Homo sapiens: one gene and its partner. The protein of the gene in region 2 purifies or fractionates together with the protein of the main gene of each other region. This does not show direct contact. Each region holds a gene or a part of one and is shown on either strand. Other genes may lie near its edges.

Region 1 (5,169 bases), on a different chromosome or scaffold from region 2:
TTTAAAAAACAAACCTCAGAACCAAAAACTGAAGATTAATAAAAACACATGACTGGAGACTGAATGTAAATCCTATGTGACTGAATGTGAATTATATGCTTTGGGGAAATACTGATTATTCCAAGGCTAGGTGACACTCCCTCATTCTTCCCCAAACCCCTGGGCCCGGAAGACTGAAGAAAAGTTTGGAAGTCACAAAAAGTAGAAAATAAACTCTTGTATTGTAGCACATTTCATCACAGCCTGACTAGGACCAGTGCTCGACTTTCTGGTGGCAGGGCCCAGAGCTCACGGACACCACTGACAGTATGGGGGGTGTTCTGCTTGGCACCATGTCTGGCTTTTTGGCCAGAAGTCCTTTGCAGAGCTGAATATCCCCTTGCCAGCCCGCCAGCTCTGGCTGGGAGGACTTGCTCTTGGGTCTGCAGCCTGCATCAGGAGCCTCCACTTTCCCCAGTGCTGGATTATGCATCCTGCTCTCCAGGGTCCACCTTGTTGCTACAGCTGCATGGCTTCCTGCTCCACTGACTGGTTCGAGGGTGCCAGGTACTTCTCCTGGATGCCCAGTGTGCTGAGGAAGGGTGCGTCAAGGCTGATAGCATAGGCAGAGGATGGGGAGCTGGTCTGGGCAGGATCTGACTTCCGCTGATGCCTACACTCCAACCATGTCCATCCCTCTCTTCCTCATAATTATAGGGACCAATCAGGTATGAGAAGCCTCCAAAAACACCCAGACTCAAATGCTCCTCTATCTGCCTCTTCCACACACTGCTGCGGATCAAAGGACTGGACAGTACTAACCTTGCAATTTTGCGTTATGGCACATGCTCTGGAGCCAGACTAAGGGAGTTCAAAACCTGATGATGTCTGGGTCTGGGGTCTGACGAGGACATGGAGGTTAGCCATGGCTAGGTTGGCTATGTTAGGACACCATGGCTGTTGTACTACCAGATGGCTCCAAAGTAAGAAACAGATTCTACACCCACCAAAACCAAGGTTTGAACTGTTCTTCCAAAACATCCCGGGAGAGGGACCTTGGGCCTGTCGCCTCAATTATAAAAGGGGTTGAAATGAGGATTAAATGACCCTGCAAGTAAAGCACTTAGCCCACCAAATGATGTTCGAGTTACAGACCTTTCTTTTTCTTTTTTTTGAGACAGAGTCTCACTCTGTCACCAAGCTGGAGTGCAGTGGCGCGATCTCGGCTCACCGCAACCTCCAACTCCCTGGTTCAAGCAATTCTCCTGCCTCAGCCTCCAGAGTAGCTGGGACTACAGGTACATGCCAGCACACCCAGCTAATTTTTCTATTTTTAGTAGAGACAGGGTTTCACCATGTTGACAGAAATGGTCTCGATCTCCTGACCTCGTGATCCGCCCGCCTTGGCCTCCCAAAGTGCTGGGATTACAGGCGTAAGCCACCACGCCTGGCCAAAAATAAATTTTTATACTTTAAAAAAAAAAAAGAGAGAGAGATGGGGTCTCACTATGTTACCCAGTCTGGTCTCAAACTCCTGGCCTTGAGCAATCCTCCCACCTTTAACTCCCAAAGTGTTGGAATTACAGGCATGAAGCCATTACACTTGGCCCATGCCATCTTATTTGCAACCCTTGAAACCTGTCTCAACTTTGAACCCCTATGCCTTTGCATGTTCTCTTAACTTGAATTCCCTTTTCTTCTTCATTAGACTGGCTAACCCTCACCTTGAAATGACACAACTCACGTGTCATGCCTCCATAAAGCTTTCCTTACCCACCTACCCTTCAGCAAAGCTGACCACTCCCTTATTTGTATCAGTCCCTACTCTCTTACAGAGAGCTGCTGAATCTTAAGGGGGTTAGGGTCAGGGCAGAATCTAAAATCAGCACAAATGTATATGGTTAAAAATACTCTTTAAAATTCCTCAAATTATTTGTTAAATGCAGCATACATGGTTTTGTGAATAGAATCCTTTATATATACGAATACATAAAGTAACGTACAGATGCTCCTTGACTTATGATGGGGTTACATCCTGATAAACCCATCCTAAATCAAAAATATCTTAAGTCGAAAATGCATTTAATACACATAACCTACCACACATCATAGCTTAGTTTCGCCTACCTTAAATATTCTTAGAACACTTACGTTAGCTGCATTTGGGCAAAATTATCTAACACAAAGCCTATTTTACAATAAAGTATTGAATATCTCATGTAATTTATTGAATACTGTACTGAAAGTGAAAGAATGATTGATAGGTACCCAAAGTATGATTTCTACTGAATGCATATAGCTTTCACACCATCATAAAGTTGAGCCATCATAAGTTGGGAACCATCTGTACGGTGTACAAAATACTACATTATTTAAATTGCTTCTCCCAGCCTAGGCTGTATGGTGAAACCCCATCTCTACAAAAATTAGCTGGCCACAGTGGCACACGCCCATAGTCCTAGCTATTCAGGAGGCTGAAGTGGGAGGATCACTTGAGCCCAGGGAGGTCAAGGCTGCAGTGAGCTGAGATCACGCCACTGCACTCCAGCCTGGGCAACAGAGTGAGACTCTGCCTCACAAAATAAACAAACATAAACTGCCCTTCCCAGCTGGGGACGATGGCTCATGCCTGTGATCCCAGCACTTTGGGAGGCTGAGGTGGGAGGGTAACGAGCCCAGGAGTTCAAGGTCGCAGTGAGCTATGATTGCATCACTGCACTCCAGCCTGGGCAAAGGAGCAAGACCCTGCCTCTAAGAAATAAATATAAAAGTTGCAGGCCGGGCATGGTGGCTCACGCCTATAATCCCAGCACTTTGGGAGGCCAAGGCAGGTGGATCACCTGAGTTCAGGAGTTCGAAACCAGCCTGGCCAACATGGTAAAACGCTGTCTCTACTAAAAATACAAAAAATTAGCTGAGCGTGGTGGCGGGCGCCTATTATCCCACTTACTCGGGAGGCTGAGGCAGGAGAATTGCTTGAACGTGGGAGATGGAGGTTGCAGTGAGCTGAGATTGCACCATTGCACTCCAACTGGGGCAACAAGATTGACGGTCCGTCTCAAAAAAAAAAAAAAAAAAGGGCCAGGTGTGGTGGAGCATGCCTGTAATCCCAGCTACTTAGGAGGCTGAGGGAGGAGAATCACTTGAACCCTGGAGTTGGAGATTGCATTCCAGCCTGGGCAACAACAGCAAAAGAAAGTCCATCTTAAATTTAAAAAAAAAATTGCTCCTCCCCTCTTTTGCTGAGCACATGCAGTCCAATTGGCCTACATTAACTGCAGGTGTGACGCAGCTCCTTAGTACCTTCATCAGGGACTGCACACTCTACTGCCATCATTTATAAGTCATTCCTCCAACCCCGACCCCATGAGCTTTGTTTCCCACATATGGCTCGAGAAACATCAGTAAGTGTTGGCTGGAATTATTTTCCTCTATACCCTAAGACTCCTGAGTCCCCCTTGTCTCCAGCATGCTGCATAGATGCTGAATCTGTGAGAGCATCAGCCTAGAGGGCCTGGACTTTTCTGTCCTGCTTCACGCATGGCCTCTGTGACCTGATGGACACCTACCCATGACCTTGGCTCCAGCCTCATTAGTCACTAACCAAGCTCCAAAAGTCTGGCTGCCTCTTGGACAGCTCTGGATGTCCCATGGACCCCTGAACACAGCACATCTGCCAGCTCTTGTCCCTTTCATCCATGTGACAAACCTGCTCCCTCCTCCTTTTCCTGCCTCAGTGATTAGTACAACCACCCACCGTCTAAGCCAGAGATCTGGGAAGCTAAGTTCTACTCCAGCTCCATCTATCCCATTCAGTCACTGACTCTTACAGTCTATCTCCTTAGTATTTTTCCATTCTACACCTTTCTTTCTATTCTCACTACAAATCTTTCAACCCTTCTCACCTAGCAAGACTGTAAAACTCTTTTGCCCCCAATCACGTCCCTTAAATGCATTTTCCACAATTGCAGGGGCTTTTCTAAAATGTACATCTGATTGTGTCACACCCTGTTCAACAGTACTGCTTGAATACTTGCTCCCACTGCCCACCCATGAACTGAAGTCCACATTCCTTAGTAGGGCACTCAGGCCCCTCCCTCGGCAGCCCTGCCTGTACCCCTGCAACGCCCTTTCCTCTTCACATGCAACACACCAGGAACTGGACTCCTGCATCTCTCCCGAATGACTAATGCCCTCTCATTTCTGGGCCTCTGTATTTGTTACTCCTATTGATCAATATCCTCTCTTGTCCTCAGTACAACCAACTCTGAAGCCAAGGGACCACCTTTGCACATGAGAGACAGTCATCAGGAAGCCCAACTGATCAATATGAAATCAGTCATCCACGGCCGGGCGCAGTGGCTCATGCCTGTAATCCCAGCACTTTGGGAGGCTGAGGCAGGTGGATCACCTGAGGTCAAGAGTTCCAGACCAGCCTGGCCAACATGGTGAAACCCCGTCTCTACTAAAAATATAAAAACTAACTGGGCACAGTGGCGCACACTAATACCAGCTACTTGGGAGGCTGAGGCAGGAGAATTGCTTGAATATGGGAGGCAGAGGTTACACAGAGCCAAGATTGCGCCATTGTGCGATCCAGCCTGGGCAACAAGAGCGAAACTCCCTTTCAAAAAAAAAAAAGAAAAAAGAAATTGGGTGGATCACAAGGTCAGGAGATCAAGACCATCCTGGCCAACACAGTGAAACCCCGTCTCTACTAAAAATACAAAAAATTAGCTGGGCGTGGTGGTGGGTGGCTGTAGTCCCAGCTACTCAGGAGGCTGGGGCAGGAGAGTGGCGTGAACCCGGGAGGCAGAGCTTGCAGTGAGCTGAGATCGTGCCACTGCACTCCAGCCTGGGCGACAGAGCAAGACTCCATCTCAAAAAAAAAAAAAAAAAAAGAAATTGGTCATCCACAAGGTTGATGACTGCACCTCCTGTGGCCATTCTTGAGTCCCATGTCTCACCCTCTCTGCTATGGCCAGGAAGCTGGCAAGGATACGAAGAGAAATGGAAGTCGGCTCCCATTGCGGCAGACATCATGGCTTCCAAGCTTCGCTGCTCTTGGGCTCTGAAACAGTATCCATTGGCTTTATCCACAGCCTGCAGGACTCGCTGGATGCTCTCCTTGTCCTGAGCAGGGAGGAGAGAAACAGTTCTGTGAGTGAAACAGAAGTATGTAAAACTGCT
Region 2 (5,169 bases):
TAAATAACATGTTTTGGCTGGGCGTGGTGGCTCACACCTGTAATCCCAGCTACTCGGGAGCCTGAGGGAAGAATTGCTTGAACCCAGGAGGTGGAGGTTGCAGTGAGCCAAGATCGTGCCACTGCACTCCAGCCTGGGCGACAGAGTGAGACTCTGTCTCGATAACAAAACAAAACAAAACAAAAAACCATGTTTAATGAAAAATATATCTATTTTCCAGATGAATTTAGTGACAAGAATAACATTGGTTTACATTTTTGCGAATCTCTCTAATGACCTGGCTTAATAGAAACAGCTGGATTCTTACATCTACTTCTGCATTCATTCCATTGTAGTATTTTATTTTTTATATTTAAGTATATGAGGAAGTTCTAATTTCATGCAAATAAGTGGTTGGAAAGAGAGGAATATTTTGGCTTTTTTTTTGTGAGACAGTCTCACTCTGTCACCCAGGCTGGAGTGCAGTGGTGCGATCTCGGCTCACGGCAACCTCCGCCTCCCGGATTCAAGCAATTCTCGTGCCTCGGCCTCCCAAGTAGCTGGGATTACAGGTGTGCGCCACCAAGCCCAGCTAATTTTTGTATTTTTTGTAGAGCCAGGGTTTCACCATTTTGCCCAGGCTGGTCTCAAATGGTTGGCCTCAAGTGATCCGCCTGCCTTGGCCTTCCAAATTGCTGGGATTACAGGCAAGAGCCACCACGCCCAGCCCACCCCTTCCCTTTTTTTGAGACAGTTTCATCCCTGTTGCCTAGGCTGGAGTGTGGTGGCACAATCACAGCTCACTGCAGCCTCTACTTTCCAGGCTCAGGTGATCCTCCCATCTCAGCCTCAAGTAGCTGGGACTACAGGCATGCACCACCAAGCCCAGCTAATTTTTTATATTTTTTAGTAGAGACAGGGTTTTGCCATGTTTCCCAGCTGGTCTCAAACTCCTGAGCTTAAGTGATCCACCTGTCTGCCTTGGCCTCCCAAAGTGCTGGGATTACAGGCATGAGCCAAGGCGCCTGGCCTGTGGATATTTTTTTGATACTACACCAAAACGGTAAGTTGTAGTTTCTCAAAGGTTGGTTTTGATGTAGAAACTGAAACCATATGAATGAACCTTCTGTATTTATGTTTGAAGTTCATTGGTTTGTCTTGTACTTCAGATGTATCTTTTACACATGCATATTTTGTAGCATCCTAATTGGTCATTTGGAAAATATTGGTTTGCTGAGTTACGTAGATTTTCAAATGTTAACACACTTCATTATAATAAAAAAATTGCATTTGTTAATATGACTACTGATGTCATTAGAAAAGCCTTTAAATATATCAGGAAGCTATCAAGCCCATAGTGGTGCATAGAAGTTTCCTAAAATTCTGATTTTTGCTTGAAGCTCACAATTTTCATCATTTTCAACAAATACTTAAAATTATTTTCCTCAAAGACTTACTTTTTTCGTTTGCTTTCATTTCTTTTTGTTCATTTCTTTGTCTGCCAAATATCTACAACATCGTCAACTTAATTCTAAGTCTGAATTAACATCATGGGTGTTAACATGTTGATGAGTTAACATAGTTGGTGTCAGCTGGCTATTTGAGTAAAAAAGATACTCCATGTTAAAAGGGACTAGTTCAGAATCATGCAAGTGCTTTTGTTCAAGACAGTCATCTTCACTATGCAGTAGAAGTGCTTATGAAGTGTTCCATTTTATTTTACTTTATTTTTTATATAGAGACTGGGTCTTACTGTGTTGCTCTGGCTGGTCTTGAACTCCTGGGCTCAATCCAGCCTCTCACCTTGGCCTCCCAAAGTGCTGGGATTATAGGTGTGAGTCATCGTGCCTGGTTGAGGACTTTCATTTTTTTAAAAGTCACAGGATATGAAAGAGATGTATACTCAAGGGTTAAGGTTTAATAAAACTATTTATTTTCACTGCTTCATTAAGGACATTTTTAAGTAAAACTGGCTTTTCTCCCCTTCACTTGAATGGAGAATATGACTGCTAGTAATGTTTGGTTCTGCTACCCTGAGTTCTGCTAAGGTGTCAGCAGTTTTATTCATGTTTCCACCATCAGTGCAAATGTAAACACAGTGAAAGAAGCAAATATATGTTGTTAGTATTACTATTAAAAATAGCTTTGACTCTCAGGCGGTCCATGAACCACACTCTGAGAACCTCTGCTCTAAAAGATTAGGACACTAAACCTAACCACAGTACCTCCTTAGTATTAAATATCCAGATTTACATTTCCCTGATTATCACATAAGTTTTTTAAAGGTTTGTTGGTTTTAATCAGTATACAGATAAGGTCCATGCTTTGCAATTGATTGATAGTGTCTCATAAGTCCTTTTTTGAATTTATTGGTTGCCTTCCAACCTTTTTTTTCCCCTTGTAATTTGTTTGTTGAACAACCTGGACTGTTTGTCCAGGGCTTGAGACTGAATTTTGCTGCTTGCATCCCAAATGCTGTGCATTGCTGTTTTTTGTTTGTTTGTTTGTTTTTTGTTTTTTGTAAATAGATCTTGAGGCTTGAGATTTAGCGTTTGAGTTTTTTGGCAGTAATACTTTATAGGTGGTATTCTATACTTCCAGTATCTGGTTGCCTTTCTTTTTATGATTTTAGCAGCTATTACTAAAGACCTTAATTAAATGGCGATTTCCAACTGATACCATTCTATTTTTTCTCAGTCCTTCTTCAGTTTTTAGCCAGACTACTTCTAAAACTTTGTTTCCTCAACTGTTTGGTTACCTAGTGATGTAGTTCTTATAGTAAGGGCAGGAATAAATGCTTGATTCTCTTTTTTTATTTACCAGTTTTCAAAATAGTGAGCTGGTTGTCTAATGATCCAGATCAGTGGTCCAAAGTCGACCAATGATTTTTTTGTTTTGGTGGAATATCATTATAAACCCATTGGTTTTATTTTGTATATTTTGGATATTAAGTATGTTAAGGAAGCCATCACCATCTATTTGCCTGGCCATCTGAATAATGCATTTATTTCACTTCTTATGTTGGGGAAACCTATTATCATTTACCTGTTCTTTCCATTACTTCAGCCAACATGTATTTATGATTTCAAGGTTGATTGCCTGGGACAGTCATTCCATTGACAAGCTGCCTTATTTAGATTGTCTTTTTCATTATTCATTTTTTTAGTATAGAGTTGAATTCTAGAAAGTTAAATGATAGCATGATGAACCTCCACTCTATGCTTTATTGTGTCTTATGAGGAAAATTAAATGCTCTACTTAAGAATCTAATGTATCCACTCCATTTGGGGACCTTCTGTTTTTATTTTTATTTGTTAAAAAATAGAGATGGGGTCTCGCCATGTTGCCCAGGCTCCTGAGCTCAAGAGATCCACCCAGTCCACTTCCCAAAGTGCTGGGATTACAGGGGTGAGCCACTTTGCTTAGCCCATTTGGGGACTTTCTAATGCACGTCAAATAGTTGGTAGACTTCTCCTCTCCCCACCAATAGAGAGAATGCTAGGGTATAAAAATTAGAGCCTAGTTATCCGTCTTTGCAAATATTATTCTCCACCTTTGCCATTATTCAAGGCGGTGTTTATAATAAAAAATAAGTACAAAGTAATAATTTTTTTCTCTTAACAGTGATGGTGGCCTGCGTTTTGGAGAAATGGAACGAGATTGTCAGATTGCCCATGGAGCAGCCCAGTTTTTAAGGGAAAGATTGTTTGAGGCATCAGATCCATATCAGGTTCATGTTTGCAATCTTTGTGGAATAATGGCGATTGCCAACACCAGGACCCATACATATGAATGCAGGGGCTGCCGCAATAAAACCCAGGTGTGTATAGACTTTACTGGCAGTTGATATTTGTTTAGAGGAAACTGTGTTGGTCTGATTATCCAGGCAGAATTAGTGTGGCAGAACAGATTGGCATTTTCACAATTTTGATAGCATGCTTCTGTGAGATTCCGAGTTCTAAATAAGGAAAAGATAATTTGATTTTTCTAAAAACCAGTTTAGGTTTTAGTGTGGTAATTTCTCTAAGCTATTCATCTTTTGGAAATAATAAGACTTTGTACAAGGGATTTTAAACAATGAGTTTTTGAAAACCTTTTAGTTGAGGTGGGTGAATATAAATTATGTCTGGCAGAATGGGTAAAATACCAAAGCCTACTAGGAGAAAGAACCACCATAAGCTGAGGTAGCAGAATGTGTGTTCTCAGCTCCACTCATTTATTCATTATCTACAGTACCAGATCTTTGTCTTTTTCTGGGGTAGAGAAGTGGGGTCACTTCAATACAATTCTGCTAATTACCATTTGTTTTTTCTTTTCAGATTTCTTTGGTGCGAATGCCTTACGCATGCAAACTATTGTTTCAGGAACTTATGTCTATGAGTATTGCACCGCGAATGATGAGTGTTTAGCTATTTTACAGGAGTCAACAAGATAATTAAATATCTTGGTGTCTTGTTTCTATTGTGTGGCTTTTTAAAAATGACAAATATGTACTGTGTTGTGATAAAAAGTATTTTATTTGTTTAATGATATGCATGCTTTTCTTCTGTAAATATATAATAAATTTTTGTAGATAGTCTTGATGTGTGATCTTTATTTTGTATTTCTCTGTGTAAAACCAGTGAATATAACTAAAGTGTTAGTGGATTGGATTAAAAGAAACTTATTAGGCAAGAACAGGTAATGTAGTTATCCATGACTACTTTTAACCATGCAGACTAATAATATTCTGGAGGTTTATAGCTCGGCACCTTCACCTGTTTAAAAAAAAAAAAAGATAAAAATTAGTTACATATGGGGATGTGGTTGACTTTTGAATTGGCAGGTAGTTGAGTGTTTCCAAATAAATGAAGATGTTAAAATATGGGGATAAAGGATATATGAGTAATTGTATAAATGATATGCTGGAGTGCTCTGTGGAACTCAAGTTACATGATTTTAGCTATGAAAGGCAATTTTGCTGTATTGGTTGATGCATCAAAGGTACATCTTATTATAGAACTGGAAGAGCACATTTCACAATGAGATTCAGAGAGGTTAAAGACCTTTCCTTTGTAGTCCGGATCTCCTTCAAAAGGTAAAGTGGAGGAATAATTAGTAGCAGAGCTGAGACTCAAACGCATGGCTTGACTCTTAGCTACTGTTCTGTTTCATTGCCTGACATTACACATTATGGCTGAAGAGAATCTG

Evidence for each region.
Region 1: the proteins of POLR2B (region 2) and GPN2 purify together in Homo sapiens (affinity purification with mass spectrometry; 4 studies listed by BioGRID and IntAct, with this or other methods). This does not show direct contact.

Annotation. Positions count from the first base shown.
Region 1 is NC_000001.11:26,879,179-26,884,347, forward strand, and holds part of GPN2 (GPN-loop GTPase 2), read right to left. Parts: intron 5,113-5,169; coding exon 4,982-5,112; intron 572-4,981; coding exon 499-571; 3' UTR 1-498. UniProt on the Homo sapiens protein: Small GTPase required for proper localization of RNA polymerase II and III (RNAPII and RNAPIII). May act at an RNAP assembly step prior to nuclear import.
Region 2 is NC_000004.12:57,026,601-57,031,769, forward strand, and holds the end of POLR2B (DNA-directed RNA polymerase II subunit RPB2), read left to right. Parts: intron 1-3,603; coding exon 3,604-3,799; intron 3,800-4,172; exon of another isoform or gene 4,173-4,298; coding exon 4,299-4,388; 3' UTR 4,389-4,558; downstream 4,559-5,169. Other genes in the region: IGFBP7 (insulin-like growth factor-binding protein 7 isoform 1 precursor), read right to left, coding at 4,717-4,736. UniProt on the Homo sapiens protein: Catalytic core component of RNA polymerase II (Pol II), a DNA-dependent RNA polymerase which synthesizes mRNA precursors and many functional non-coding RNAs using the four ribonucleoside triphosphates as substrates.